Linked DNA regions of Homo sapiens. The protein of the gene in region 3 interacts with the protein of the main gene of each other region in a biochemical or structural test. Each region holds a gene or a part of one and is shown on either strand. Other genes may lie near its edges. The genes, in order: CTSB, CTSH, CSTA and CTSL.

What was found.
Region 1: the proteins of CSTA (region 3) and CTSB form a complex in vitro, tested with the Homo sapiens proteins (3 studies listed by BioGRID and IntAct, with this or other methods).
Region 2: the proteins of CSTA (region 3) and CTSH are reported together in a solved structure, tested with the Homo sapiens proteins (one study listed by BioGRID).
Region 4: the proteins of CSTA (region 3) and CTSL form a complex in vitro, tested with the Homo sapiens proteins (2 studies listed by BioGRID).

The regions. Positions count from the first base shown.
Region 1 is NC_000008.11:11,865,088-11,872,622, forward strand, and holds the start of CTSB (cathepsin B isoform 1 preproprotein), read right to left. Parts: upstream 3,001-7,535; 5' UTR 2,914-3,000; exon of another isoform or gene 2,167-2,913; intron 1-2,166. UniProt on the Homo sapiens protein: Thiol protease which is believed to participate in intracellular degradation and turnover of proteins. Cleaves matrix extracellular phosphoglycoprotein MEPE. Involved in the solubilization of cross-linked TG/thyroglobulin in the thyroid follicle lumen.
Region 2 is NC_000015.10:78,942,032-78,948,868, forward strand, and holds the start of CTSH (pro-cathepsin H isoform a preproprotein), read right to left. Parts: upstream 3,016-6,837; 5' UTR 2,951-3,015; coding exon 2,860-2,950; exon of another isoform or gene 2,747-2,859; intron 1-2,746. UniProt on the Homo sapiens protein: Important for the overall degradation of proteins in lysosomes.
Region 3 is NC_000003.12:122,321,219-122,328,253, reverse strand, and holds the start of CSTA (cystatin-A), read right to left. Parts: upstream 3,007-7,035; 5' UTR 2,962-3,006; coding exon 2,896-2,961; intron 1-2,895. UniProt on the Homo sapiens protein: This is an intracellular thiol proteinase inhibitor. Has an important role in desmosome-mediated cell-cell adhesion in the lower levels of the epidermis.
Region 4 is NC_000009.12:87,721,532-87,729,118, reverse strand, and holds the start of CTSL (procathepsin L isoform 1 preproprotein), read right to left. Parts: upstream 3,001-7,587; 5' UTR 2,721-3,000; intron 1,759-2,720; exon of another isoform or gene 1,651-1,758; intron 1,526-1,650; 5' UTR 1,516-1,525; coding exon 1,390-1,515; intron 1,093-1,389; coding exon 970-1,092; intron 870-969; coding exon 723-869; intron 535-722; coding exon 310-534; intron 1-309. UniProt on the Homo sapiens protein: Thiol protease important for the overall degradation of proteins in lysosomes. Plays a critical for normal cellular functions such as general protein turnover, antigen processing and bone remodeling.

The DNA.
Region 1 (7,535 bases), on a different chromosome or scaffold from region 3:
CCACCCTGATATCCCAGAGGCACAGCACATCTGTACATGCCTCCCCTAGACTCAACTGCCTGTCACCCCAACCATCTCCCTTTACATGGACCATGTGGAAGTGCCCAGTAAATATCACTCAACCGCACATGTTTCCAATAATTTCCTTAGGCCAGACCATTGAAAAGAGGCAGCAGACTGGGCGCAGTGGCTCATACCTGTAATCCCAGCGCTTTGGGAGGCCGAGGTGGGCGGATCACGAGGTCAGGAGTTCGAGACCAGCCTGGCCAACGTGGCAAAACCCCCACATTGGGATTTTTTTACATTGGATTTTTTTAGGAGAGACAAAAAATCTCTACTAAAAATAAAAAAATTAGCTGAGTGTGGAGGCACATGCCTGTAATCGCAGCTAGTTGAGAGACTGAGGCAGGAGAATGGCTTGAACACAGGAAGCGGAGTTGCAGTGAGCTGAGATCTTGCCACTGCACTCCAGCCTGGGTGAGAGAGTCAGACTCCACCTCAAAAAAAAAAAGGAGAGAGAGAAAAGAAGAATCGACATACCTGTAACTCCTCCCTCTCAATGTTTCAGTCCATATCTCGAAAGGACGGTATGTTACTCTACACAACCACAACTCATTACCAGATTTAAGAAAATTACCCCTCCACCGCGCGGTGGCTCATGCCTGTAATCCTACCACTTTGGGAGGCTGAGGCGGATCACTTGAGATCAGGAGTTCGAAAACCAGCCTGGCTAACATGGTGAAAGCCCGTCTCTACTAAAAATACAAAAAAAAAAAAAAAAGCCAGGTGTGGTGATGGGCACTGGCAATCCCAGCTACTTGGGAGGGAGGCTGAGACAGGAGAATTGCTTCAACATGAGAGGCGGAGGTGGCAGTGAACCGAGATCGCACCACTGCACTCCAGCCTGAGCGATAGAGGGAGTGTGTCTCAAAAAAAAAAAAAAAAGAAAGAAAAAGAAATTAAGAAAGAAAAGAAAATCACTGACAGACATCCCAAGGCACCCCTGAAACGTGACCTCCCTTCAATTCACTTCCCAATCCAACCAAGAGCAACAGAAAATATCTGTTACCCCTAAAATGGGTGCAACTTCTCTTCCAACTCCCAGGTCCAGCAGCTGGGGAAAGAAAAGAACCTGCCTACAAAAAGAGCCTCCCCAGTCTGCTAAATCAGCACCACATGGGCAGTTTCAACCTGGAACCAAAGGGCCACCACCCCTCACCGCCTAACCAGTTGGAAACAGGGCTGTCCTGAGCCAACACCCAGGAGAGCTGTGCCAGGGCCGTGTCTGGCCTGCGTTGCCACCTGGGGAGCAAGGGACCTGTGCCTTTCCACCAGGGGGTACCCCCAGCTAGAGGACAAATGACCAAAGACGAAGGGAAGCCTCTGTTCTCCAGGAGACGTTTGACTCTGTCTTTGGGAAAGCTACACAGGGTGGGCGGCCCAGCCCCTTTCTCCAGGAGCTGGCGGGTTCTAAGTCACCAGCACCAGAGCCAACAAGAAACAGTTCTTGGCCAGGCACCGTGACTCACCGGGAGGCCGAGACAGGCGGATCACCTGAGGTCAGGAGGTCAAGATCTGCCTGGTCAACATGGTGAAACCCCATCTCTACTAAAAATACAAAAATTAGCTGGGCGTGGTGGCGGGCACCTGTAATCCCAGCTACTCGGGAGGCTGAGGCAGGAGAATAGCTTGAATTTGGGAGGCGGAAGTTGTAGTGAGCCGAGATCGCGCCACTGTGCTCCAGCCTGAGAGACAGAGCCAGCCAACGCCCTCTTAGGCCTCTTCGCCTTACGTTCCTGAACGTTTGGATTCAAAGAGAGTGCATCTCAGCTATCCTCTCCTCCGGCAGCAGGCAGTGGGAATGTTTTTCCAGGCTACAAAAAGGTGCCAGGTCTGCATTTGAACCCCACAGCGTCACTTCTCCAGTGGGTTTGGGGGGTCTCTCGTCCGTTAGGAGGAGGAGTGTGGGGCCTGCGCTAGGGTCCTTTTCTTTGCCAGCCTGCTGGCTTTCTCAGCGCCTGGGAAGGGGGTGACAGAGGCCCACCAGGAAGCCAAGTGCAATTCACTTCCACCTGGGTCGCCCACCCCAGCCTGCCTGCAACGCCCCACACCCAGCACCCACTGCTCCCCAGAGGCCAACTCCCCCCGGCCTCCAGGGCTACTAACCGAGGGGGAGGTGGCGCCCCAGGGACTCTGCCCGGCCTCCCTTTACTGGAGTCCAGGAGCAGGGTGCGCCCCCGGCCTTCTCCCCACCGGCATCCAATCGCCCATTCGCCTCTTGGTTTCGCTGTCTGGTTTCTCTTCCTGTTTATGGATTTAACACCGTGCGGCTTCCTCCCCAGCCCACCCAGTGCCAGATTCCTGTTCTTCAACAGGACCTGTCTTCTGGGGTCCCAGGAATTGCGTGGGATCTTGCGCAGAAAGTTGGCCAGGCAAATCCTTCGCAATGAGGGGGAAATAAACCGAAAATAGATGCCGGCAGATGCGATTATGTCGGCAGTTTGGCCCGGAGACACCGAGGCCCAGGCGCTGGGAGCGCGGTCCCAGGCAGCAGTCTCCGGACCCGGCCGAGCTCTTCCTCGCAGGCGCCTCCCTCGGCGGTCCTGGCCGCGTCCCCGCTCCGAGGGCCGGGGTCCGGCGCACAGCCCGGGGAGGGGAGCGGAGGGCAGAGGGCTGGCGGGCGGAGCTGTTTTCTGCTTTTCTCGCCGACGCTTCGGAGCGCGCGGACTCCCACCCCAGCCCGCCCGTCAGGGACAGTCCCGAGGGTCCCGGCTCCCCGCCGGCCCCCAGGGACGCCGCGGGGCCGCGCCTGGGCCCGACTGAGGGCGCAGAGGAACCCGTCTCGGCGGCCGGGTAGCACCGTCCCCGCCAAGGTCACTTACGCTGCGGTGGCCCCGGGTCCCCAGCACTCACCCAGCGCTGCAGCCGAGAGCCTGCAGCCCAGCCTGCGCGCAGCGGAGCGGTTGGCGTTGCCGGAGCGGTTGCCGGAGCCCTGCAGCCGCCGTAGCCTGGGCCAGCCCCGGCCCTAAGTACCCTCCCGGCCCCGCCCCACGTGACCACCGCGCAGCCCCGCCCGGGCCCTCCCGCCGCCCGCGCACGGTGCTTCCCAGCCCCCACCCCCTCCCGCCACCTTCCGCCGCCCGCGCTCCCCGCTTCCCGGCCCCGCACACCCCCCGCCCCCTTCCGCTCGGGGTCCGGGGCCACCGCCGGGGGCGGGCGGGGGCCTGAGCGCGCGGGCTGGGGAAGAAGGGCTTGGAGCCCTGCGGGCCCTGGGTGGCGAAACGCTGCGAATTGGGGCCAGGGGATGGGGAAAAAGCCCCTAAAGGTGGTCCCAAGGCCCCCACCCCGCCTAGAAAAGTCCCCCCGCCTCGCGGGACCGCCTCCGCCAGAACCCGCGCCTGGGATCCCTGCCTGCCGAGTTGGCGGGGGTGGGGTGGTGGAGAGGGCGCCGTCGCTTATTTCATTCATTCAGAAGCCGCTGCAGAGGCTGGGGGTGGCGAGGCTGTGGACCCCACAGAACAGCCTTTAGAAGGGCCACTTTGTTGTTCAGAGAACGTACCCACAAAACACTACAGCTACGTACAAATAGAAAAGAGTGGCTGTCACTGCGAAGGAACCTAGGAGCTGCGTCAGGATTTCTAAGAGGAGAAGGACCTTGGGGGCGGAAATCGGTTTGGCACAGGAGTACCCGGAGACCTGCTCCGAGAGGACGGACAAAGTGCACATTTACTTGGGGTTTATTACCGGGAGGCCCTGGAAGGGAGATGCAGGGGTTGGCTCAAGACTCACCCTCCTCCAGACACTCCCCAAACAGCTTTAATCCTTAAGACAAACCTGCAAAGCAGGCATGACCCCAGTTGTATTCAAGAGGCTCAGAGGGGCTGGGTTCGGTGGCTCACGCCTGTAATCCCAGCATTTTGGGAGGCCGAGGCCGGTGAGTCACCTGAGGTCGGGAGTTCGAGACCATCCTGACCAACATGGAGAAACCCCGTCTCTACTAAAAATACAAAACTAGCCGGGCGTGGTGGCGCGTGTCAGTAATCCCAGCTACTCGGGAGACTGAAGCAGGAGAATCGCTTGAACCCGGGAGGCGGAGGTTGCGGTGACCAGAGATCGCACTATTGCACTCCAGCCTAGGCAACAAGAGTGAAACTCTGTATTAAAAAAAAAAAAAAGGCTCAGAAGAATCGTATTTTATCCAGGCTGTGGCGACAGTAAGAAGGCAGTAGCCGGGTGCAGTGGCTCACGCCTGTAATCCCAGCACTTTGGGAGGCCGAGGCGGGCGGATCACGAGGTCAGGAGATCAAGATTATCCTGGCTAACACGGTGAAACCCCGTCTCTAGTAAAAATACAAAAAATTAGCCGGGCGTGGTGGCGGGCGCCTGTAGTCCCAGCTACTCGGGAGGCGGAGGCAGGAGAATGGCGTGAACCCGTGAGCTGAGATCGTGCCACTGCACTCCAGCCTGGGCGAAAAGCGAGACTCCGCCTCAAAAAAAAAAAAAAAAAAAAAAAAAAAGGCAGTAGGACTGCATGGGACCTGGTTCCCTGCAGCCTGGTCGTCAGCTGTCACACAGCCCTGAGCCTGTCTTCAGAGACATGCCTGTACTCCCGCCTGGTTAGTAACAAACTAAGGATAGGAGTGGAAGGAAAAAATAATCTCTGGAGCCCAAACATGGTCACTAAGCCCCCAGCAGAGTGGGATACCCGAGGAACTGAGGACCAGGAGGCTGGAGGTCAAGGTGGTCCCAACTGCCTGCTCACCCTAGTCATATCCTGACAGCCATGGACTCTGGACTCCAAATCATTTCAGACCTCTATAAGGAGCTCATAAGATGGCCAAAATGGGGAGGACACAGCCAGAACCAGGATAACTCTCCCCTCTCTCATCCTTAGAGTGTGACAGAAGGTATGCAGAGCAGAGTGCTTGACATGCGTTATGGCTATTTGATGGAATTTTCCATCAGTGTCATTATAGAAATCACTTTTGAGAGGTAAAAATCACTTTTGAAACAAAAGAAACAGGCTAGGCGCGGTGGTTCACCACTGTAATCCTAGCACTTTGGGAGGCTGAGGCAGGCAGATCACCTGAGGTCGGGAGTTCCAGACCAGCCTGGCCCAAATGGTGAAACCCAGTCTCTACTAAAAATACAAAAATTAGCTGGGCGTGGTGGTTCACGCGCCTGTAATCCCAGCTACTTGAGAGGCTGAGGCAGGAGAATCGCTTGAGCCCGGGAGGTGGAGGTTGCGGTGAGCCAAAATCACGCCATTGCACTCCAACCCGGGCAAGATTCCATCTCAAAAGAAAAGAAAAGAAAAAAAGAAATAGGCCAGGCGCAGTGGCTCACGCCTGTAATCCCAGCACTTTGGGAGGCCAAGGCAGGCGGATCACGACGTTGGAAGTTCAAGACCAGCCTGGCCAACATGGTGAAACCCCGTCTCTACTAAAAATACAAAAATTAGCTGGGTGTGGCATTGCGGGCCTGTAATCCCAGCTACTCGAGCGCTGAGGCAGGAGGATCCCTTGAACCAGGGAGTCAGAGGTTGTAGTGAGCCGAGATCACGCCATTGCACTCCAACATGGGCAAGACTCCTCAAAAGACAAGAAAAGAAATATATTACTACCAGAGTAGAATTCGTCCCTTCCTGGAACATCCAGGAAAGCTTCATGGAGAAAGGAACATACAGCATATTTACTTGTATATGTTCCTTCCTGCCCTCACTGGATCTTAAGCCCCACCCAGGCAAGCATTTTTACCTGCGGTGTTCCCCTGCTTCATCCCAGCTCATTGCAGGGTGTCTGGCCCATAGCAGAGGATAGAGAAATGTGAGTTGAGTGGATGCATAATGAATGAAGTAGGCCTTGAAGTTGAGGAGAATTTTGGCTTAACCTGCTAGATTTGGGGGTCAGGGTTCAGGGCCTGGGGAACAGCTCTCAGAACTTACAGAGAGGCCTTGACTCACGTGTGTAAAAGCTGTTTGCTTGTTGAACATCCGTAAAAGAGGCCTAAGTTAACACCTGAAAGAGGTGAAAACATACGTCCTCACAAAAATCCGCCGGGCACAGTGGGCTCACGCCTGTAATCCCAGCACTTTGGGAGGCAGAGGTGGGTGGATTACTTAAGCCTAGGAGTTCAAGACCAGCCTGGGGAACATAGTGAGACCCCAACTCTAAAACAAAAGTTAATAACGTATGTATAAACTTACACCAGATGTTTATAGCAGCATTATTTACAGTAACCAAAAGGTGAAAACAACTCAAATGTCCATCCATTAAAAACCATTGCACGAATAAACAAACTGTCATAAATCCACCAAATGGAGTTTTATTCAGTCGTAAAAAGGAATGAAGTAGTCACACATGCTACAACATCGATAAACCTTGAAAACGTTTACTAAGTAAAATCAGCCAGGTCCAAAGGACTCAGTATTGTATGATTCCGTGAAATCCACATGGGAGGTTAGGTAGGTGACAGCTAAAGGGTGTGGGGTTTCTCTGGGGGCTAATATGAATTTTTTTTTTTTGCCGAGACAGAGTCTCGCTCTGTCGCCCAGGCTGGAGTGCAGTGGTGCGATATCGCCTCACTGCAACCTCCGCCTCCCGAGTTCAAGCAATTCTGCCTCAGCCTCCTGAGTAGCTGGGGTTACAGGCACCCGCCACCACACTCCCCTAATTTTTGTATTTTTAGTAGAGACAGGGTTTCACCATGTTGGCCAGGCTGGTCTCGAACTCCTGACCTCGTGATCCACCTGCCTCGGCCCCCCAAAGTGCTGGGATTACAGGCGTGAGCCACAGGGCCCAGCCTAATTTTGTATTTTTTGTAGAGACGGTGTTTTCCCATGTTGCCCAGGCTGATCTCAAGCTCTTGAGCTCAAATGATCCTGCTGTCTCCGCCTCTCAAAGTGCTAGGATTACAGGTGTGAGCCACCTCGCCCAGCCTGATTTAACTTTTTAATTTTTAAAAATTATCCTTGAATACGCTACAGTGCCCAACTATTCAGTGTTGAAATGAACTGGATTTCTTATTTGGCTGTGATTGTTTCCAGTATTTTCAGAAATATGTCTCCATTCCTATCTAAACTCTAAGTTGGTTGGTGTAGGGTGCTGTCTTATTCATTTCTATTTCTCCTTCCTCTCTTCTCAAAGGACTTTCGTGCCCTTTACCCCTCCTTCCAGCAGGGAGGTATGAGCCGTGCCTCTGGGCTCCTTCTTCTTCCTCCCGACAGCTCCCTTTCTGTGGTGTGACTGTCATCAGAGGGAGGGAAATTACAGTGCCTTGGCTTCAGAGAACTAAGTTTCTGGTTCTAGCCTTATGAGGGCTGACCACATTGTTTTTTTTTTTTTTCTATTGGCTTCCAGAAGGATTCCTCTTTATTCTCCTACAGTGTCTCCTTTGTGGCTTATCCTACTGCGAGAGCACTTGTTTAACTGCGAGCAAAAGAGATGGCTGCTCCTCTAATACCGGTGGGGGCCTCGACTTTCACATGAACTCCCTCGGAAGGGAAGCCATGTCTGCAGCCAGGGTCTCAGCAGATG
Region 2 (6,837 bases), on a different chromosome or scaffold from region 3:
ATTAATTCTGGTCTTATTTTTGTTTCTTATAGGTCAAAGGGCTGGGAAACCCTGCTCAAATAAGCAGCTGGGAATGGAGGCAGTTTTTAAGAGCAATGCCACTTAATTCTTCGCACTCCTTTCTGTGCATCCAATCCCATGGTGCTCTATCACTCAGCCCTCCCTCCCTCCCTTTCTTTCCTTCTTTTTTTTTTTTTTTTTTGAGAAGGAGGCTGGCTCTGTTGCCCAGGCTGGAGGGCAGTGGCACGATATCAGCTCACTGCAACCTCCACCTCCCTGGTTCAAGCAATTCTATCTCAGCCTCCCAAGTAGCTGGGATTACAGGTGCCCACCACCACGCCCGGCTAATTTTTATATTTTTAGTAGAGATGGGGTTTCACCATGTTAGCCAATCTGGTCTGAAACTTCTGACCTCAGGTGATCCACCCACCTTGGCCTACCAAAGTGCTGGGATCACAGGCGTGAGCCCCCACGCCTGGCCTCACTCAACATTATTTTTAAGACCTCATCAGTTGATATCCCCATGAAGTCCTCTCCTCTTCAATTCAGTTTCCTTGAGGAATTGAGAATGCCAGATATGAACGATTTATTACCGTTTTGTCTTTTTGTTTGCTGTCCCTATTGTTTTTATACCCATGGGTTCAGGTTCAGATTGAATGAGAGGAAAGAGGTTCCCCCTTGCCTTCAGGGGCTCTCTCCCAGTTTTAGCAAAGAGGACACTTGGAAATAAAAGGTCTGTAAATGGATTTCCAGAACACTCTCTGCCGGCATCACTTGAAATATCTTCCTGTTTCCCCAAGGATCCATACCTCCAGTGTGAAGATCACTACCACACAGCATTTAGATCTCCGTTTTTGGGTCTCGAACCTGTTCCAGAGACCAATCTATGGCCGTTTTCCCTGGGGAAAATGCACATTTCCTCAACATGGCTCCCTTTAGGGTTTCAGGGGATTCCAGATCTTGATTAAGGGCCCTGCTGCAGCTGAGGGCTTTAGAGGAAGACAGACCTCAACTCAGGACAAGAGTTGGAGGCAGGGTTTGAGTTTAGGACAATTGACTACCAGTTTGCCTCTGGAGAGATTATTCTGGGGCCAGAATAATCTGCTGGTGAACCGTGCCTTACCCTAAAATAGATCCATTCCAATCTAGTCAGGACTTTAAAAGTGCCATAATACCTTGCCTGGATTTACAGCAGGTTTCAGGAAAGTACAGTATTCCCCTGTTTGTTTGTTTGTTTGTTTTAGATGGAGTCTTACTCTGTCACCCAGGCTGGAGTGATCGCCACCTCTCAGTTTCAAGCGATTCTCCTGCCCCAGCCTCCTGAGTACCTGGGATTACAGGCACCTGGCTACCACACCCAGCTAATTTTTGTATTTTTAGTAGAGACAGGGTTTCACCATGTTGGCCAGGCTGCTCTCGAACTCCTGACCTAAAGTGATCCGACTGCCTCGGTCTCCCAAATTGCTGAGATTACAGGTGTGAGCCACCGCAGCCGGTCCCTGACTCCTGTTTTAGTACAGCTCCTGGGCTACAAACGGTTTCTTACAATTTTAAATGGTTAGAAGAAACATATTTCGTAGCACCCAAAAATCCCTTGAAACTGAAATTTCAGTGGCCATAAAAATCATTTATTAGAACCCAGTTACACTGACTCACTTACATACAATCTATGGTTGCTATCACACTACCATGGCAGAGTTAGTAGTTGCTACAGAGACCACCATAAAGCCTAAGTTATTTACCGTCTGGTCTTTCACAGAAAAAGTTTGCCAAGCCCTGCTCTGGAATTCAGACAGCCTCTCAGCGCCAGCCTTCTCCAGGCAGCCCTCGCTTGCGGCAGCTAGGTTTTCCTTAGGCGGGAACTGACCTGGAGCTGGGCGCCCACTGAGGTTTGCAAGGCTGGGGAGCTTTTTAAATAAATAGGTGGGAAGGAATGAGGCAACCCTCTGGCCCAGATTCAGCCTCAGTGATCTCTGTCCCATCCCCTGAGCCTCTAGCTGGGGGAAAGCCCTGTCCCGTTCCTCCAGAGCTCAGGGCACCCCCCCTCCCTAGGTTCTTGGCTCCTTGGGTTGTTTCTTGGCTACTTTTCTCGGTGAAGGGGGCAGGTGGTCTTTAAGTTCAGAGCCTGTGGGCTGAGGCTGGGACCAGGGACAGTAGGAAAGGAGGGAGGCAGTAGGGAAGAGCAGGCTCCTTGCCTTCAGCCAGGGGAGGTGCCTGAGCCCGGGCAGTAGACAGGATGCAAGGGCAGCACGAAGCTGGACCAGTCGCAGCCAATCTGGCCAACAAGAGGAGTCCTGGGGCTCCACCTGACGCCATGGGCCCTGGGGTGCTGTTAAAAGCGCTGTTGGTCTGAGTGCTTTCCCTGGTGCCGTTGCACAGGGATTCACTGTTCCAAACAGCCCGTCCAACCTACTCTACAGATGGGACTCCCAAGACACTACGGGGATCCCCTGTGTGCCAAGTCCCGGGGGAAGCTGCTAGAGAAGGCTGGGACGTCCTTGCTCACCTCTGGCAGGGACAGATCAGAGTCCTCTGTGTGACACTCTGTGTCCCCAGTTGAGGAAGGCGGAAGGAGCTGCGGGCTCCTTTGGTATTCTAGGCTGGAGAGCCACCTGGCTAGGTGGGACCCTGGACACTCAGCCCATCTGCTCCTCTGGTCCTACAAGCCGCCCACCCTCCGAGAACCCCCGCCTATAATGCAGTTTACCCCTCCCCGTGCCAGCACGCAGAGTTCCTGGCCTCTCACCGGGGAAAGCTCTGCCCCGTTCCTCCGGAGCCCAGTGCGCCCCTGGCCAAGTTCTCCCAGCGTCCACTCTAGGGCCTGCTAGCACCCTCTCGGGCGGCGCGCCCTCTGCGTACCTAAGGAGTTCACGCACAGTTCGGCGGCACCGCAGACGGGGACTCCCAGGAGCCAGGCCCCGGCGCAGAGCAGCGGCAGCGTGGCCCACATCGCAGCGCTGGCGGCTTGGCTCTTGCGCTCAGGGTCCGCGGAGGTGGCGGCCCAGAGCGTCAACTGGGAGCGCGGGGGGGGAGCGGCACGAGCGTGGAGGAGCGGCGGGAGCGCGAAGGGGCGGAGCGAGCGCGGGGCGGAGCGAGCGCGGGGCGGGGTGGGCGGTACTCCCCCGAGGCCGGGCTCGCGGGAGGGGGCGGCGCCGACTAACTCGCCAGCTCTAGTTCACCTGTCGGCCGGCCGCGTCGCTCCCTTATCTCCTCTGGGAGGAAGGGCTTATCTGGGTATCAGGCCTGGCTGAGTCCTGGATCTGCCTGGACTGGCTGGCACCGCGCGGGGAGGTCTCAGCCTGGCCTCTCCCTCTCCCAGCCTGTCGCCATCCCCACGTCCCCCATCTCCCTGCGTGTCCCCACCTCGCACCCCCCCATCTCCCTGCCTATCCCCAACTCGCACCCCTCATGTCCCTTCCTGTCCCCACCTCACACCATGTCCCTGCCTGTCTTCACCTTGCACCCTCCATCTCCCTGCCTGTCCCCACCTCGCTCCCCCTATGTCCCTGCCTGTCTCCACCTCACACCCCCATCTCCCTGAATGTGCCCACCTCCCACCCCCTATGTCCCTGCCTGTCCCCACCTCCCACCCCCATGTCCCTGCCTGTCCCCACCTCGCACCCCCATGTCCCTGCTTATCCCCACCTCGCACCCCCCCATCTCCCTGCCTGTCCCCAACTCACACCCCCCATCTCCCTGCCTGTCCCCACCTCAGACTCCCCATGTCCCTGCCTGTCTCCACCTCACACCCTTATGTCCCTGCCTGTCCCCACCTCGCACGCCCCACGTCCCTGCCTGTCCCCACCTCGCACTCCCCATGTCCCTGCTTGTCCCCACCTCGCACCCCCCATCTCCCTGCCTGTCCCCACCTCACACCCCCCATGTCCCTGCCTGTCTCCACCTCACAGCCTTATGTCCCTTCCTGTCCCCACCTCGCACCCCCCATCTCCCTGCCTATCCCCACCATACCCCTATGTCCCTGCCTGTCCCCACCTCACACCCCCATGTCTCTGCCTGTCCCCACCTCACACCCCCATATCCCTGCCAGTCCCCACCTCACATCCCCCCATCTTCCTGCATTTCCCCACCTCACACCCCTATGTCCCTGCCTGTCCCCGCCTTGCACCTCCCATCTTCCTGCCTGTCCCCACCTCACACCCCCTCATGTCCCTGCGTGTCTCCACCTTGCACCCCCATCTCCCTGCCTGTCCCCACCTCATACCCCCCATGTCCCTGTGTGTCTCCACCTCAGACTTTCCCCCACACTCCCCACGTCTCCCTGCCCTGGTTAACCACATTTCCCTGGCTTCCCTTTTGCTTGGAGTGGACTTACAACTGAAGAAGCTAGACGACCTCCTTGTGAATTGTTTTGCCCCCTCAACAGACATTTTAGTCTTTCTGCTGAGGAAGCTACATTAAGAGCTGTAGGGCCATTCTCTGTAGTTTGCAAAGCTAAAGAAGATGGTATGTAAGGGTCTGGGTGTGAGACAGACAGAAGAACGTGCGTTCCAGGCTGAGGAGGCCGGTGCTGTCACTGCTTTGGGTGAGGAGAGGGTGATTCAGACCAGCCTGTGCCGTAGCCTCAAATGCCCAGTGATGCCCTGTTCTTCACTTACATCATCACCTTGCAAAGTGGCATGTTGTTGACCCCCCATTTTACAGATGAGGAAACTGAGGCCACAAGAGTAGATGGTAACTTTCCCAGTCTGTGCGCAGAGAGTGTCTGAACCCAGCCTTGACCTACTGCAGTGCTCTCTGCTCTGGGCTTGCTCTTTCTCTGTCTCTTCATTTTTAAATTTTTATTTATTTATTTTGAGACAGGGCCTGGCTCTCTTGCCACCCAGGTTGGAGTTCAGTGGCATCATCACAGTTCACTGCAGCCTTGGCCTCCCAGGCTCAGGAGATCCTCCCACATCAGCCTTTTGAGTAGCTGGGACCACAGGCTCGTACCATCACGCCCAGCTAGTTTTTTTGTATTTTTAGTAGAGATGGGGTCTCAAACTCCTGGGCTCAAGTGATCCTCCTGCCTCAGCCTCCCAGAGTGCTAGGATTAGAGATGTGAGCCTCTGTGCCCTTCCCTCTCTTTTTAAAAATGCATCTTTCCAACCTGTGAGTAGAGCCAGATCTGAGCTCTCTCGTGGCCTCCCTCCGACTGGTGTTTCATCCCCTGATGTTCTAGCCCAGACTCTGTGTCTCAGGCACCTGGGGAAGCAGATTCCTGGACTTCTTTCCTGGGATATGACCTACTGGGTCTGGGTAGGGCTCAGAAATCTGCATTTAAAGAGCCTCCCCCACAGTCTCTCTCCTCTCCTGTGGCCAGTGTGGCATGTGGACATGGAATCTCCATGGAACCAGGGTGAGCTCCAGCAGGCACCTTTTTTCAGATAAAGCAGATCTTCCTTAGGTTGTGACTCCATCTCTGTCTGGATGCCCCTCTCTGGGTGTGACCAGTCTCTCTGTGCTTTGAGGCATATGTCTCAGAAAAGACCCTGCTCGGTTACTATTTGGAACAGAAGTCGCTGGCCTTGGGATAAAGGTGTCCTTCTAGGCAGATGTCCTGCCCTTCATGTGTACCTGGAATGCTTCACCCCTCTGCCCATCCCAGCCACTTGGAGGATGTCAGAATTGAAAGCTCTGCATGCTAGACCTCAGGCCCCAGAGCTGCCTCCTGCGCTAGGTCCCTGGTGACCCTCCTTTGTGGATCGTTCCAGCAGGCCAGGGCCCCTGGGTGCTGAGATGTGGAGGGCACTGACCTGGTTAATTGGAGACCAATGTTTGGTTCTAGCCCTACTACAGATTCACTGTGTGACCTAAGCAAATGGTTCCCCCCCGCCTCCCCCCCACCAGCCTCAGTTTCCTCATCTGTAAAATGGAGCAAGTATCCCTGCTTTCCAGGGTAGTTAGATACGGTCATGCAGTTTAAATATAATTATAGGTAAAATACCTGGCCCTGAGCATGGCACCAGAATAGAGACTCCCCCCATGCATGGGCTTTTCTGATGCTCCGTTGTGTGCTTTTTATCCTTTGCTACCTGCACACACTTTTCATGGTGAGTTTGTCTGACCCTCTGGCTCCAGCTGGCTGGAGGGCTTCTCCGTGGTTCCAGTCCTCTACACCTCTACAGAAATGAGGCTGAGGACTGCAGCTGCTGGCACAGTCTTGGCTGGACAGGGCTGGTAGGCAGAACTCGAAAGCTTCCTATTCACTCAAGCACAATCTAGCGACTGCCATGGAGGACTTTGCGGATGGAATCAACGTTTGAATCAGCTGACTTTAAATAGGATTATCCTGGGTTATCCGAGGGGCCCTGTGGAATCATGTGGGCCTTTAGAAGCAGAAGAGCATAGGAGAAGAGTCGGAGAGAGGGGGCAGAAGGAGAGGTTGGAGAAGTCAGAGGGGGGATGAGGCAGGTGGGGTCAGAGAGCGCTGAATCATGAGAAGGACTCTATCTGCCACTGCTGGCTTTGAAGAGGGCCAAAGCCAAGGTACACAGGCAACCTATAGAAGCTGGCCGTAGTGACAGCCAGCAAGGAAACCAGGACCTCAGCCCTTCACCAGCATGGAACTGCATTCTGCCAGCCCTCTGAATGAGCTTGGAAGCAGATTCTCCCCCAGACCCTCCAGGGAACCAACCAAGTCCACATGGACTTCTGACTTACAGAACTTCCGTAGAGTACATTTGTGCTATTATAAGCCTCTAAGTTTGTGGTAATTAGAACACAACAATAGGAAGAAACCAATACACCAGATGAAACACCCAAACTGGCAGGTGCCTCATTGGTCTGAAGGTCTGGTGCATATGGGGGCTGAGAGGCCAAGGGCAAAGAACAGGCCTA
Region 3 (7,035 bases):
GCTGGGATTACAGGCTTGAGCCACCATGCCCAGTTTAATTAAGTGACTCTTAATCTCTTTGAATCTTGGTTTCATCATCTGCAAGATAGACACAATATCTTCCCTGCCTGCTCCAGGGGTTATGAAGATGAAATCAGAGCTCGAATGGAGGTCAAGCTTTTAAAAACTGCAAAACCCCTTTCTGGGGTGAGGTAGCTGTTCTTAATACTTATCTCTCATTCTACCTCTCTGATGACATTGGAGCCAAAGGGAAGCAGCTTCCTCCCTGCCACACACACACTTTCAAATTAATTTTATAATTTAAGATGGGGCTCACAGATAGGTGTTATTAGCAATGCAAGGCCTTCTGGTAGCTTCTTATTTTAAAAATTAATAATTCTTGCTAATCGAGTGATAGATTTTTTTAAAAATCATTAAAATTTTCTGTACTGTCTCTATTTCAAATTTATTTTTCCCTATGTTCCTACAGCTCTGTTCCTTAGAGAGTCTCAGGGGGATTTTTTTAGGGTCAGGGATGCTTTCAGCCACAAATTTGAAGTAAACAATTGTGATACCTCACCTATGCACATTTCTTTTTCATTTTCAAGTCATTTTTATGCACATTATCTCACTTAGTCCTTACAGCTCTGACATAGGTAGGGCAAGAGGTGTTACCTTCATTTTTCAAATGAAATAGACAAATTTTATTTTGGCACCCTGACTTTTTTTTTTTTTTTTTTTTTTTTGAGACGGAGTCTCACTCTGTTGCCCAGGCTGGAGTGCAGTGGTGCAATCTCGGCTCACTGCAAACTCCACCTCCCGGGTTCACGCCATTCTCCTGCCTCAGCCTCCCGAGTAGCTGGGACTACAGGCGCCCGCCACCACGCCAAGCTGATTTTTGTATTTTTTAGTAGAGACGGGGTTTCACTGTGTTAGCCAGGATGGTCTTGATCTCCTGACCTCGTGATCCACCCGCCTCGGCCTCCCAAAGTGCTGGGATTACAGGTGTGAGCCACTGCGCCTGGCCCTTTTTTTTTTTGAGACAGAGTCTTGCTCTGTTGCCCAGACTGGGGTGCAGGCACTATCTTGGCTCACTGCACCTTCTGCATCCTGGGCTCAAGTAATTCTCCTGCCTCAGCCTCCTGAGTAGTTGGGATTACAGGCACCCACCACCATGCTCGGCTAATTTTTGTATTTTTAGTAGAGATGGGGTTTCACCATGTTGGCCAGGCTGGTCTCGAACTGCTGACCTTGTGATCCACCTGCCTCAGCCTCCCAAAGTGCTGGGATTACAGGCATGAGCCACTGAGCCCAGCCTGCACCCTGACTTTTAAAGCCCCATCTCCCACTGGCCTTGTAGGATGCCATATATCTCTGGTCCTGCCAGCAAGCAAGGCCATGGGTGGCAGCAGCAGCAGCACTTGGGAGTCTGGTAGAAATGCAGAATCTCAGACCTACCCCAGGTCCCCTGAATCAGAATCTAAGGTTTATCAAGACGTGCAGGTGATTCATGTGCACATTCAAGTTTGAGAACATTGATCTGATCTGGGGATTCACATGAAGACATTACTGACTTAATATCATCTCCCAGGAAAAAAGCTCCAAGATATTTATTTAAAAAAAGAACTCTTGAAAGAGAAATAATTAGTCCCCAAGAATGAGTGATGGGATTCTAGGCATCTGGCCCCTTAGAGAGCTTTCTAGTTCCCAGAATATACAGGATCCCAACTCTTATAATCACACAAAAAGCTGATCTTGTTTTCCAAGCTGTCATAGAATGATGTTTCAGAGAGAAAAAATAAGAAGGAATAATATAAGAAAATAAGGCAACAAACTAAAAACCTAAAGTAGTAATTTGTACATGTTTTCCTTTCATAAAATATGCAAATAAATGTTTACTACATAGCTAGATGATAGCTAATCACACAAAGAAAAATATATCAGGGATGGGTGTGGTGGCTCACGCCTGTAATCCCAATACTTTGGGAAGCCTAGGTGAGTGGATGGCTTGAGCCCAGGAATTCAAGACCAGTCTAGCAACAGAATGAAATGCCATCTCTAAAAACAAAACAAAACAAAACCCCCCAAATCAGCCAGGCGTGGTGGCATATGTCTGTAATCCCAGCTACTCAGGAGGCTGAGTGGGGAGGATCGCTTGAACTCAAAAAGTTGAGGCTACAGTGAGCCGTGATCAGACCATTGCACTCCAGCCTGGGTGACAGAGTGAGACCCCATCTCTTAAAAATGAAACAAAACAAAACAAAAAAGAAGAAGTGAAAAACACATCAATCTGCTAACAACATTGAGTTCTATTTTTCCATATATAATTTGGTGCCCTATGACATTTCGGAGTCACTATAGACTGTCACCTCTGTTCTATTAGTTGAATTACCTTTTAACTATGAAAAGACTAAAACACTATCTATTTGGGCAAAAGTGTATGAAGTTTGTAAGTAGATTGCCTTTACAATATTATTCTTCATTCAATCTATTTAAAAAAATTTTCCCTGCAGTGCATTCCAAGACTACTTCATCAAATTGTTAATAACCTTAGACTTCAATTACACGTTGGCTTCACTTGGTGAGATTAGAAAAGTTTCATCAGAAACTGAATTAGTAATTCTAGAATCATATCTTGTAAGAGCTTTAGAGAAGATACAATACAAATTCTTTTACCCATGGAGAAAATGAAGCTCAGAGAAGAAATGTGATTTGCTCAAGGTCACACTCACAGTTTGGGGATTATTTGAGGCTTCATCTGAAAAACTCTTATTTCATCTTAGTTGTAAAGAAACCTGAACAAAGCCACAAACATCCTAAACTTCTGGTTTTCATGTTCAACCACAGCCTTTCCACAGGGACAACTTATGAATCAAGATTTTGGCTCAGACTTTTTCCTGAATGGCATCAACTCACCTTATCAACAATCTCCTGGATTTCTGGAGTGGCGGGTTTGGCCTCAGATAAGCCTCCAGGTATCATTTTGGCTGATTGCTTCTTTGCTGGACAGGATGCTGGAACCAAAGTGAACAGGGAAGTGTGGAGACTCGTGTTTTAAAAGAGGCGTTCACTAGCTCCGCCTATAGAATGCTTTATTTTCCACAAACAGCAAAGAGGCATGGGGAAAATGAGTATGCCGCCAGGCAAGTCTTCTTGCTTCCTGGAGAGAATATGCTACATGGAATTTGGAAGAAAGAGGGGTTGGAGGATGAACAAATGGGCAAGTACAGGAGTCATGTCCTAACAAGCATCAAACGTCCCTGCATTCTCTTTGACAATGGTTCCATCCTGTTGCATCATCTGAATTATGAAATCTGAAGCCGCAACTAGAATTTCCAAATGTTTTAAAACTTCTAACACAAAATTTTATTTTTTTTAAAGCAAAACTTACTAATAATGTCAAGGTTAGTTTAGAATTTACTTGACTTTAGAAAGAAAGCAAAAGGATCTATCTGGAGGACCTTGGCTGGATGTGTCTTCTTTACTCTTATTTAAATATCTGGAAATGTTTAACATACGGTAAAACACAAAGAATAAAATAACAAACATCTATATTTCTATCACTCAGAATTAAAACTTTTAACCCTTTTGTCATATTTGCTTGCTGTTTTTTATTTTTGTAGTTATTTTTAGGAAATAAAATATTACAGATATGGAGGAAGCCCCACACCCCACGCAACCTTGCCTTCCAGAAGGCAAAGTACATGGTGAATTAATATCCTTCCAGGCCATTTTTATATGTGTGTCTTTAAAATTAAAATATGTCTTACTTGGTGTGTCTTTAAAATTTCACTTAAATTGTATGCTAAATATATTCTATGTTATGTTCCTTTTTCTATTCAACATGTTTTTGAGCCTTTCTATGTTGATATACACATAGATCAATCCACAGATAGATCAATCCTGTTCATTTCCTTTAACTGTGATATGCTATTTTATGCTAGACCTATCTATTTAGTCTACCTATCTAATTGCTATATTCTAGTTCATATTTTACATACTCATTTCTCTATTGATGACGATTTTCGTTGTTTCTGGTGTTTCATTCTTACAAACAACGTTGCATTTTTTCTCCTTTTTACATGAGTGAGGGCTTCTGCAGACAACTTATCTAGAAGCAAAATGGCCACATTGTGTGAATATTTATGTATATTATTTTATTCAATTTTGGGAATATATAATACATACACAGGATAAAAATGTTTGGAAGGAACCAGGCTTTACAATATAAGGAATTATTCACTCACTTAATTCCTCAGACACCCTTCTACTCTCCAGAGACAATTATTGGCACCAACTTCTTCTGTATCCTTCAGAGACATTCTTTACACATACAAATATAAAAATAATTGGAGGCTGGGCACGGTGACTCACGCCTGTGATCCCAGCACTTTGGGAAGCCGAGGTGGGTGGATCACAAGGTCAAGAGATTGAGACCATCCTGGCCAACATGGTGAAACCCCATCTCTACTAAAAATACAAAAATTAGCTGGGCGTGGTTGCGTGCGCCTGTAGTCCCAGCTGCTCAGGAGGCTGAGGCAGGACAATCGCTTGAACCTGGGAGGCAGAGGTTGCAGTGAGCCAAGATCGCGCCACTGCACTCCAGCCTGGTGACAGAGCAATACTGTGTCTCAAAAAAAAAAAAAAAAAAAAAATTGGCTACACACACACGCACACACACACATAGATACATATTCATCTATATAGGTTTTCTTTTATAAAAATGGTATCCTACATAAATTATTATACTTTTTGTTTTATTCCTAACAATATATTTTGGAGACTGTTCTATATCACAATACAGGGAGGTGCTTGTTTCTTTATAATGATGTTTGGTGGGTGCTTGGCAAACTCTTGGAGCTAAGTGAGTGTCTTACAGGCTAAACTAAGGGGTGCTACACAAGTATCTCTCCATAGAATGCCTTTACCCTGTGGATTAAGAAGAACAGCGAATGTGGATGACAAGGTGCTCCCTCAAGAGGCCACAGGTCATCTGAAGACTTTGGCTCAGCTTTCATAGGCCACTGGTTCTACTCATCTTCATGTGACCTCCCCAAGTCAAGTCCTTTCATATTAAGGCCCCTGACGTTTTTCCAAGCCTGAAGCCCATTTTTAGTTGTCTGCTGACATCCTAGTCCAGGCCATCCTTATTGAATCTCCCCAGTGGTAAGAGATATGGTAAACCACAAGTCTACCCTTCTCTTTCTAGGGTCTATGCCCTGTACTTTCAGCTTTTTCCTATTGATTCTCAATAATTTATTTTAGAAGTAAAAACTTCCCCAAAGCAAATATTGCTTTTGTGTTTTGTATTCCTCCTATAACAATCCTAGTTCTTCTCAAGAGTAGTATGTGTGCCTCTGATTGACAGGGAAAGAGTCGCACACAAGGAAGTGCAAAAGAGAAAAGCACAATTCATATCTCTGTATTAATTGTTTACTTAAGTTAAACAAACAGTTGATTAAATACACATTTATTTTAAAGGTACCTTTAAGATTGCTTTTTGGATTTTTTGGTATGAATTATGCAGACTGTGTTTCTGGAGCTAGATATCCTCATATATTTCATATTTCTTGTCTGTGAGCTCATCTGCCACAGGAGTTATCTTTTATGTGAGTTTTCTCTTTTGTGGCTGGTTTGTGGGGCTTTCCTATGGGGTGGTTTCCGCTACCAGGTCCTAGGAGGTACACAAGCCCCAGCCCAGTTCTTACTTTACTGTTGGCTTAGAGCTCTTGCACCATAAAGATACTGAGAATTTGGGCTTGTCTCCAGCTTTAGTTACAGGCCTGGGCTCTGAACTTCCCCAGCTAATTGCGCTTCTACCCATTGCCAGGAGTAGATGTGTGGATGCATACACTTACCATGCAACCCACCGTTCCTACTGCTAGCTATTTCCCCAGGAGAAATGAAATATGTCTGCACAAAGACTGGCATATGAATGCTAACAGCTGCATTATTCATAATGATTCAAAACCGAAGAAAACTCCTTGTCCATCAACTGGTGAATGGTAAGAATAGTTGTGGTAGAGTCACAGTATAGAATACTACTTAACAATAAAAAGGAACAAAATAGTAATACATTAAATCACATAGGTAAACCTCAAAAACAAGACAATGTAAGAAGAAGTGAAAGAAAGCAAACACAGGAGGCCATGGACTATATTATTCCATTTAGATGAGACCTTAGAAGAGGCAAAATTATAGTGACAAAAAGGAGATCAGAGGTTGCTTGAGGCTGAGGTGAGGGATGGAATGCACTGTAAAGGGGCGCAAGAAAACGTCTTAGGGAGATGGAATTGTTCTATACATGGATTGCGATAGTGGCTACACAACAGTATATGATTACCAAACTTCATCAGATTGTGCACTTAAAGTGGGTGGTCTTGTTTCCACACCAAAAAAATAAAAAAATAAAAAAGTGGGTGGACTTTATCATATGTAAGTTACACCCCCAAAAAGCTAGAATATAAAAGCACTGCCTTTTGAATGCCTTCTTTGTGTGTCTCTTGGTCTCGCTGTTATACTTCTTCCTCTAATGTTTTTCATTAGAGTCTTAACTCCTACTGCACCAATACAGTGCTTTAAAAATGACTGTGAAGGCCCTATTTGAAGTGTGTGTTCAAGGGAGGACATAGTTATTCCTCCTGGCTATCCTTGTGGTGAAGAGGGAAAGTGGGGGGCAGGGTTGACTGAGGACAGGTCATGAAAAACAGGTGAACGATCTTACACTTTAGTTGTTAGGTAATGGAGGTCACTGAAAAGTCAGAGCTATAGAGAAGCCATTTGTGCTTTAGGAAGATAAAACTGGAGGCAATGTGTAGACTGGTATATTAGGAAAACACGAACTAACTCCCTCTCTTCTACTAAACCCTCAACACTCAACATGCTCTGGCCATCATAGTGCATGGAAGCTGAATCCCTGTACCCGCATTGTTGTCTGGCTTCCTGGCTTGAGAAAAGCAGAGTTTCTGTTCCATGTTGAGGAGGGGAGAGACAGTGCAGCCAGCGGGATGGCAGGAGAGCAGCCCATACTCCATGGCGAGACCCCTGCTGCGACGC
Region 4 (7,587 bases), on a different chromosome or scaffold from region 3:
CAACCACCTCCCACACTCAAGCAATCGCCCTACCTCAGCATAGCTGGGACCACAGACGCACACCACCACAGCCGGCTAATTTTCGTTGTATTTTTGATAGAGTCAAGGTTTCACCTTGTTGCCCAGGCTGGTCTCAAACTCCTGAGCTTAAGCCATCTGCCTGGCTCAGCCTCCTAAAGGGCTGGGATTACAGGCGTGAGCCACCCCACCCAGCCCTAATATATGAATTCCGAAAAAGGTATCTGTTATCTCTTAAAGTGTCCACCTTCCAAAAGCTGAGCTGGAATGATGACAAGGAGCTCCACTTACTGTTGCCTCATATGGATAGGATTCCTCAGAGTCCAGGCCTCCATTATCCTGAACATACTGGAAAGCATAATCCATTAGGCCACCATTGCAGCCTTCATTGCCTTGAGGCCCAGAGCAGTCTACCAGATTCTGCTCACTCAGTGAGATAAGCCTCCCAGTTTTCCGGAACATCTGTCCTTCAAGAGCACCAGTAGCACTAAAAGCCCAACAAGAACCACACTGACCCTGAAAAGGGAATTAAAAAAAGCTGTCATCCACAAAAAAAAAATAATAAGACTTTGACAACAGCTCACACATCTGAATACTGTTAAAAAGTGAACTGTACATCACTTTAAAGTCTACCAAAACAAAGATGTCAATCACTTCTTGGCTTTCCTGGGAAGATGGGAGGTCTGAACCTGACACTGTCTCACCTGATTCTTCACAGGAGTCACGTAGCCTTTCTCTCTCCAATCCACAGATCTGGGGGCCTCATAAAACAGAGGTTCCTGGAACACTTTCCCCTTCCTGGGCTTACGGTTTTGAAAGCCATTCATCACCTGCCTGAATTCTTCACTGGTCTTCAAGGAAAAGGAAATAAAATGTTGAAAAGCAAGAGATTACCTTAGTAAAGAACCGAAGAGAGGAAGCACAGAGCTCGGCAGTCCACAGCACACTTACCATGTCTCCAAAGGCGTTCATGGCCATTGTGAAGCTGTGTTTCCCTTCCCTGTATTCCTGATTGTGCAGTTCAATCATCTTCATGTTCTTCTCCCACACTGCTCTCCTCCATCCTTCTTCATTCTAGAGGCAAACATGTAACTGATGCTCTTTACTTCTACCTAAAACCCAACTCATCCTCACCAAGTGAATCTGCAGACAGAGATGGAAGAGAAACCATGGCAAGGGAAGGCTTGACACCTCTGGGGATGCTGTTCTCCAAACTGAGACACAACAAGGATGAATGTCCACATTGTGCTCATAATCCACGCCATTAGGTTATTACATTAGGCTATTGGTAAAAGCTGGCCTCTAGAAGCTACTCTCTGACTAAAACTTCTCAACAGCCAGGACTATTCTTTCTGGGGAAGTTTCACTAACCATGCCGTATAATCTGTTGTGCATCGCCTTCCACTTGGTCCACTGTGCCTCTAAACTGTGATCAAATGTTAGAGTAGCTGAGGCAATTCCCAGGCAAAAGGCAGCAAGGATGAGTGTAGGATTCATGTTTTAAAACCTAGGAAGGGAACAAAAATGAGGATCTGATTAGACCAATCCTAAAAAGCCATCTTACTGCCCCCTGAAAAATTAGGGCCACCATGGTAGAATAAAAATATTTAAATTATTCTCCCAAGCATTTACCCAAGGACTGTGGAAGAGGCCAAGGATGTGCCTGGAGAAAAACAGGGCACGTGGAGGTACTGGATGGACTCACCAAAATGAAAAGCAGCCTGTCCAGAGCTGTAGGAGCTGAAACAGTTTATGCGATGACAATTTAGGTTATGAGAACGGTATGAAACTACCTTGTGTGTGAGAAGCTTAAGGCAACAACTAGGAAACCGGGAAACGGTTGATCCAGGTTTTGTACCAATCGCAAAAAATCCAGGTTTCGTGCCCAGGCAAAACCTCACTAATGATAAGGTGGGATTCCCAAGTAGGGACAAAGAGATCCCCAAGAGTTAGGAGGCCTTCACACATCTTCCTGACTAACAAACACCAAAAGCTGAGATAAGTTTTCCAATCTCTCCTATTTATTTATTTATTTATTTATTTATTTATTTATTTATTTTTTGAGATGGAGTCTTGCTCTGTGGCCCAGGCTGGAGTTCAACGGCGCGATATCGGCTCACAGCAACCTCTGCCTCCCGGGTTCAAGCCATTCTTCCTCAGCCTCTTGAATAGCTGGAACTACAGGCGTGCGCCGCCTCGCCCGTCTAATTTTGTATTTTCAGTAGAGACGGGGTTTCACCATGTTGGCCAGGCTGGTCTCGAACTACTGACCTCAGGTGATCCGCCCACCTCAGCCTCCCAAAGTGCTGGGATTACAGGAGTGAGCCACCGCGCCGCCCCAACCTCTCCTTAAATGAAACCTTTCTGAAATGCTTTCCCAGGAAAAACTGGGAAGGAGAGCACGCACTGCTCCCTCCTTCATTCACTTGGGCCTGTGCTGCCGACACCCCAAACTGCTCCCCTAAATCAGGGACGGGGTCATATGGCCGCACGCGGGAAGCCAGCGCCCTGCAGCCAGCTTCCAGGGCTCCAGGCGTGGCAGGGCCGGGGACATGACGCCTGCGCCACACACTGGCTGTAGCGGTCAGAGGATGTTTGCGGTGACGCCAGCAGGAGTACCGCTGTCTGGCGTGCGGGGACTGAGCTTCCCTGTCTGGCCGGGCCAGGCCCTGAGTCGGCGCGGCGCGGCCTGGCTGCGGTACCTGTGTCCACCCGGCTCGGAGGCTGGCCTGCCCGCTCAACCAGTCACGCGCCTCCGCGGGGTCCTCAACTGCCCTCCCCGGCTTCCCCACCTCAAGGCCAGCAGAGTTCGGGGTAGACGCTCTCGTTGCCAGGGCTGGTGCACACCTACTCGACCGCGTCCTCTCTTCCAGTCCCTGTCCGGCCACAGCTGGGCCTGGCCGGCGGCGCTTTCCTGCTGCGGTCGTAGCTGCGCAGGCGCACTCCACGGATGCCGCTCAAGGTTGCGGAGGTCGCGGTTCTGGCCCAGCTTCGCCTGACTCTGCTTCTAAAACCTCGGGTCTGGGTTCGGCCGGCACCGCCCCGCCGCCTGGCTGCGCTGCGATTGGCTGTGCCGGCAGCTGGGCGGGGACTCTGGGTGCTCTGATCCCTGGCGCGGTTCGTGGCTTGTTTACTGACTGTCCCAGAGCTGGGCGTGCCTGCCTCAGTGGACCTGGAGGAAGCAGAGCTGGTGCCCCGGGGCGGCGCAGAGTAGGGTCGGGCGTCTCCCTGGAGCGCTCGAGTCAACTAAGTACACGACTTACTGCACTGGGCGAGTGGCTCCTGAAAAGACGTTTACCGCAAGCCCTGTGTGGACTGTTTCAGCCTAACCTTGCTATTCCTTAGTCCTGGAATTTTTGGTCCGCAGAGCCGAGAGTCAAGTGTACTCTAGTCCAGTGGCTCCTGTTTAGTCCACAGCAAACGTGGGGCCGGGTGGACGAACGCAGAGCCCGCGGGCAGAAGCCTTATCTCCCACTTAAGGGTGGGTGCAGCTGGGCTTTAGAAGAATCTGGTAAGGAAAGGCATCCCCAAAACACGAGATGCTATCGTCAAGACCAGACCCTAGGAGGGAGGAGACTGGCTGCGTCTCCAGAGAGCGCGGGCGTTTTGTCAAGCATCCTTTCCAGACTCCTCCATTCAGGGATTCTTCCTTCTCCCACGTCTTACCCAAAACCAACAGAAATGAGTTATTTACAGAAACATTTGGTTGACAGGAGAAAAGCAGTTGAGAACATTAGAAGCTGCTTTTATTCGCCCACTCTCTAGGCTATGGATTATATCTTCCTTGGTAACCAAGTCGTTCTCTTGAGATTTAAGAAATTTAATGACATTTAATGTCAGGATTTAAGATACAGAGAATGGAGAAATGTTGTAGATAGAGGAAAAATATGTATCTTAATCTGTATAATGTAGATATTAATTTATGTAATTAAGGATTTAAGGAACAAAACCCACAAACATTCTAAACTTTTGTCATTTCATTTTTTATTACATAAAAACATTCATTGTAGAAAATACCTTTCGGGGAAAAAAATAATTACCTCTGCCTTTACCCCATAACCTTTTCGTATGCATATTTTGACTTTGTTAAAAATGAACAAAGTCCATTGATTTCTATTGAAGATTAAACTGATAACTCTTTTAGAAGCACAATCACCTATAGTTTTTTAAGTGGTAAAATATACCTCACATAGCAAGTACCATTTTAACCAACTTTGAGTTCAGTAGCATTAAGTACCTTCACATTGTGTAACCATTACTACTGTTTATTCCCAGAGCTTGTTTATCTTCCTAAACTGAAACTGTATCCATTGAATAATAGTTCCCCATTCCCCCTCTCCTAGCTCAGGTATCTACCATTATATTTCCTGTCTGCAGGAATTTGTTTACTATTTTGGAGATTATTCCTCTTTTTTTTTTTTTGAGACGGAGTCTGGCTCTGTTGTTCAGGCTGGAGTGCAGTGGCGCAATCGCAGCTCACTGCAATGTCTGCCTCCTGGGTTCAAGTGATTCCTCTGCCTCAGCCTCCAGAGGAGCTGGGACTACAGGCGCGCACCACCACGCCTGGCTAATTTTTGTATTTTTAGTAGAGATGGGGTTTCACCATATTGACCAGACTGGTCTTGAACTCCTGACCTCGTGATTCGCCTGCCTTGGCCTCCCAGAGTGCTGGAATTACAGGTGTGAGCCACCGTGCCCGGCCGATTATTCCTCTTTTTATGCATTGCTTCTCTGGAGAACCAGTCACAATGTGTAGAATACAATCTAACTGTGATATCTGTCCTAGTCTCTTTTCTGTTGCTAATAACAGAATACCTGGAACTGTGTAATTTATGAGAACAACATTTATTTCTTACAGTTTTCGAGGCTGGGAAGTCTGAGGTCCAGGAAGTGTATCTTGTGAGGGCCTTCTTGCTTGTGGGGATTCTTTGCAGAGGCCCAAGGTGGTGTAGGGCATCACAGGGCGAGAGGGCTGAGTGTCCTAGCTCAGGTCTCTTCCTCTTCTTTTAAAGCCATCAGTCCTGCCTGGGCGCAGTGGCCCACACCTGTAATCCCAGCACTTTGGGAGGCCGAGGCAGTCAGATCACTTGAGGTCAGGAGTTTGAGACCAGCTTGGCCAACAGGGTGAAATCCTGTCTCTACTAAAATACAAAAATTAGCCAGGCGTGGTGGTGCACACCTGTAATCCCAGGTACTTGGGAGGCTGAGGCGGGAGAATCACTTGAACCTGGGAGGTGGAGGTTGCAATGAGCCGAGCCGAGATCACGCCACTGCACTCCAACCTGGGTGACAGAGCGAGACTCCATCTCAAAAAAAAAAAAAAAAAAAAAAAAAGCCATCAGTCCCATTCCCAAGATAACCTGTTGGTCTATGAACCCATTATTCCATGAATAGATTAATGTATTCATTAGGGAAGAGCTCATATGTCCTAATCACCTCTTAAAGGCCCCACATTTTAATGCTGCCACATTGGAGATAAGTTCCAACAAGAGTTTTGGAGGGGGCAAACAAGGAAACCATAGCAGTATTTAAATTTATTATTTTATGAAATAAAAACAATATTTCTGTGGTGTTAGGTAACTGGAGTACCTACGTCTGCCTTGGTTCTAACTTTGCAGATTTCAGGATCACAAGAAGTTCATTGGAACAGCTGAATGTTTCTACCGGGGGCTTAGAGCTCACTTGGTCCTTCATGAGTTCCTTACTGGGGAGTGTGAGAGAAACTGCTCAGATGGCCTCCCCTTCCCCAAATTTGAAAGAGAAAGAGAGAGAGTTGTGAGTGAGTGGCTTTGCTCTCCAGCACTTGCTTAGTGAAGAGCCTCAGAATCTGGACTGTGGCCTCCCAGTTCTGAGGAACCCCATTCGCCACCAGGAGGGGTGGCATGTTCACCCCGTTATTCAGGAAGGAATTGGAAAACAAACAATCGAGGGTGTGAGGTCAAGAGCTAGAAAATCGCAAGCCTCTGGCACCTGAGCCAGGGCAGATGCTGGGAGCACCTGCAGGATACTCCCATATTCTGCCACCTTGGTACTTATCAGCCTCTGAGAACTGAAGCCGGACCCTTTCTTTGCTTGAGCAGAAGATCAGACCAAAGAGCTCATTGACTCAAGGAGCATCATGGCAACTGGGCTGTACCCGGAGGGGAAGAATCCAGGGTCTGATCCACAACCAAGGCCTGAAGAAGTGGGGCCTGTACTTGACCTACCCAGGGTGAGTCATGACCCAAGTGCTGGGGCTCTAGCCATGGGTGGTCCTTCCAACCATTTCCAGCTTCCTCCTGCAGAGGGGCTGGTGTTTTTCTTCATTTTCCATAACCTCCTTGGGAGCACAGGCTTTGGTTTCTGCCTTCCCTGGATCAGGTCTCCCACAATGCAGTTGCTCTAACAAAAACTATTAGCAACAACATAGTACCACAGAAGCCAGCTCCTTGCTAGCAGTGATTGCTGATGATATTGTCTTCTAGAGACCATTCTAATGACTAGACAGCCTCGGTGCAGGAGGAGCTGTTGTCGGTCATGAGGAGCATTTCCTTGTCTATGTAGAGGAACTGAAACCGATGTGGCCAGCAAAATTTACCCAAAGCAATCACTGGGATACTCATCACACCCTCATGGCCCATTGTATCACTTTTGTTCCCTATATATGTGGTCCCATTTCCTCAGGACCAGTACTCCCTTATGTGGGGAGCAGGACTGATGCCTTGAGTTACTTATAGTGACTCGTTAGTTGGGGGATTTGCTAGTATTTTCATCAAACTTGAATCTAGTGAAACATTTGATTGAACTGGCTTCCAAATTGAAAATAAACCAACACCACTCAGGAAACCTATTTACAGCGAGAAGTCAGGAGTGGGAATGCATCTTGCACTGTCACCTTGATTAACAATAGCTCTGACCTGTGGGAGGACGGTCCTCTCTCCTGTAACAAACATAGGGTAGTGATGGGCCAGGTCCTGCTGCTCCTACATTCTCATCACTTAGATAAGCACAGGCAGGTGACTGCAAGCCTTCCAGCCTCCACCAGCATCCTCCAGTTCTCCCCTGACCGCTCTCATTCATATTCCGCACTGATTCAGAGGTCCAGTCCTGAGTGGCAAAAAGAAACATGCGTGAGCCTTTCTAGAAATCAATCAATCATTCATGGATTATAGTGAATTCTTCCCTACTAAACACATCTCCAGAAATTCAGGCGTAGTAACTCCCTTCCTGAATGTCTTTCCAAGGCCCTAAGTGACATTGATGTTCCATAGACAATGTCTTACACGGCAAAGTGCTTCTGGGGGTGGGAACCTGCTGACCTTCCCTGGAATCCTGACTGCAGGTTCTGTTTAGAACATGGGGTCTCATTTTGAGAAGCTCTTGGTATTTATCATTCACGGGAAGTTCACAGGTTCCAGAAAACACTGGACAGCATTCAGGGGAAAGAAAAGGGGCAGAGATGGAGACACCTGGTCAGTTTGGCCAGAGCATCCTGGGGGAAATGCACTGAGGGACAGAGGGGCAAATGCACATGGGTGGTGGGGAGAGGAGCAACGCAGATAGCAAAGACACTGTCCAGACAACCTCCCA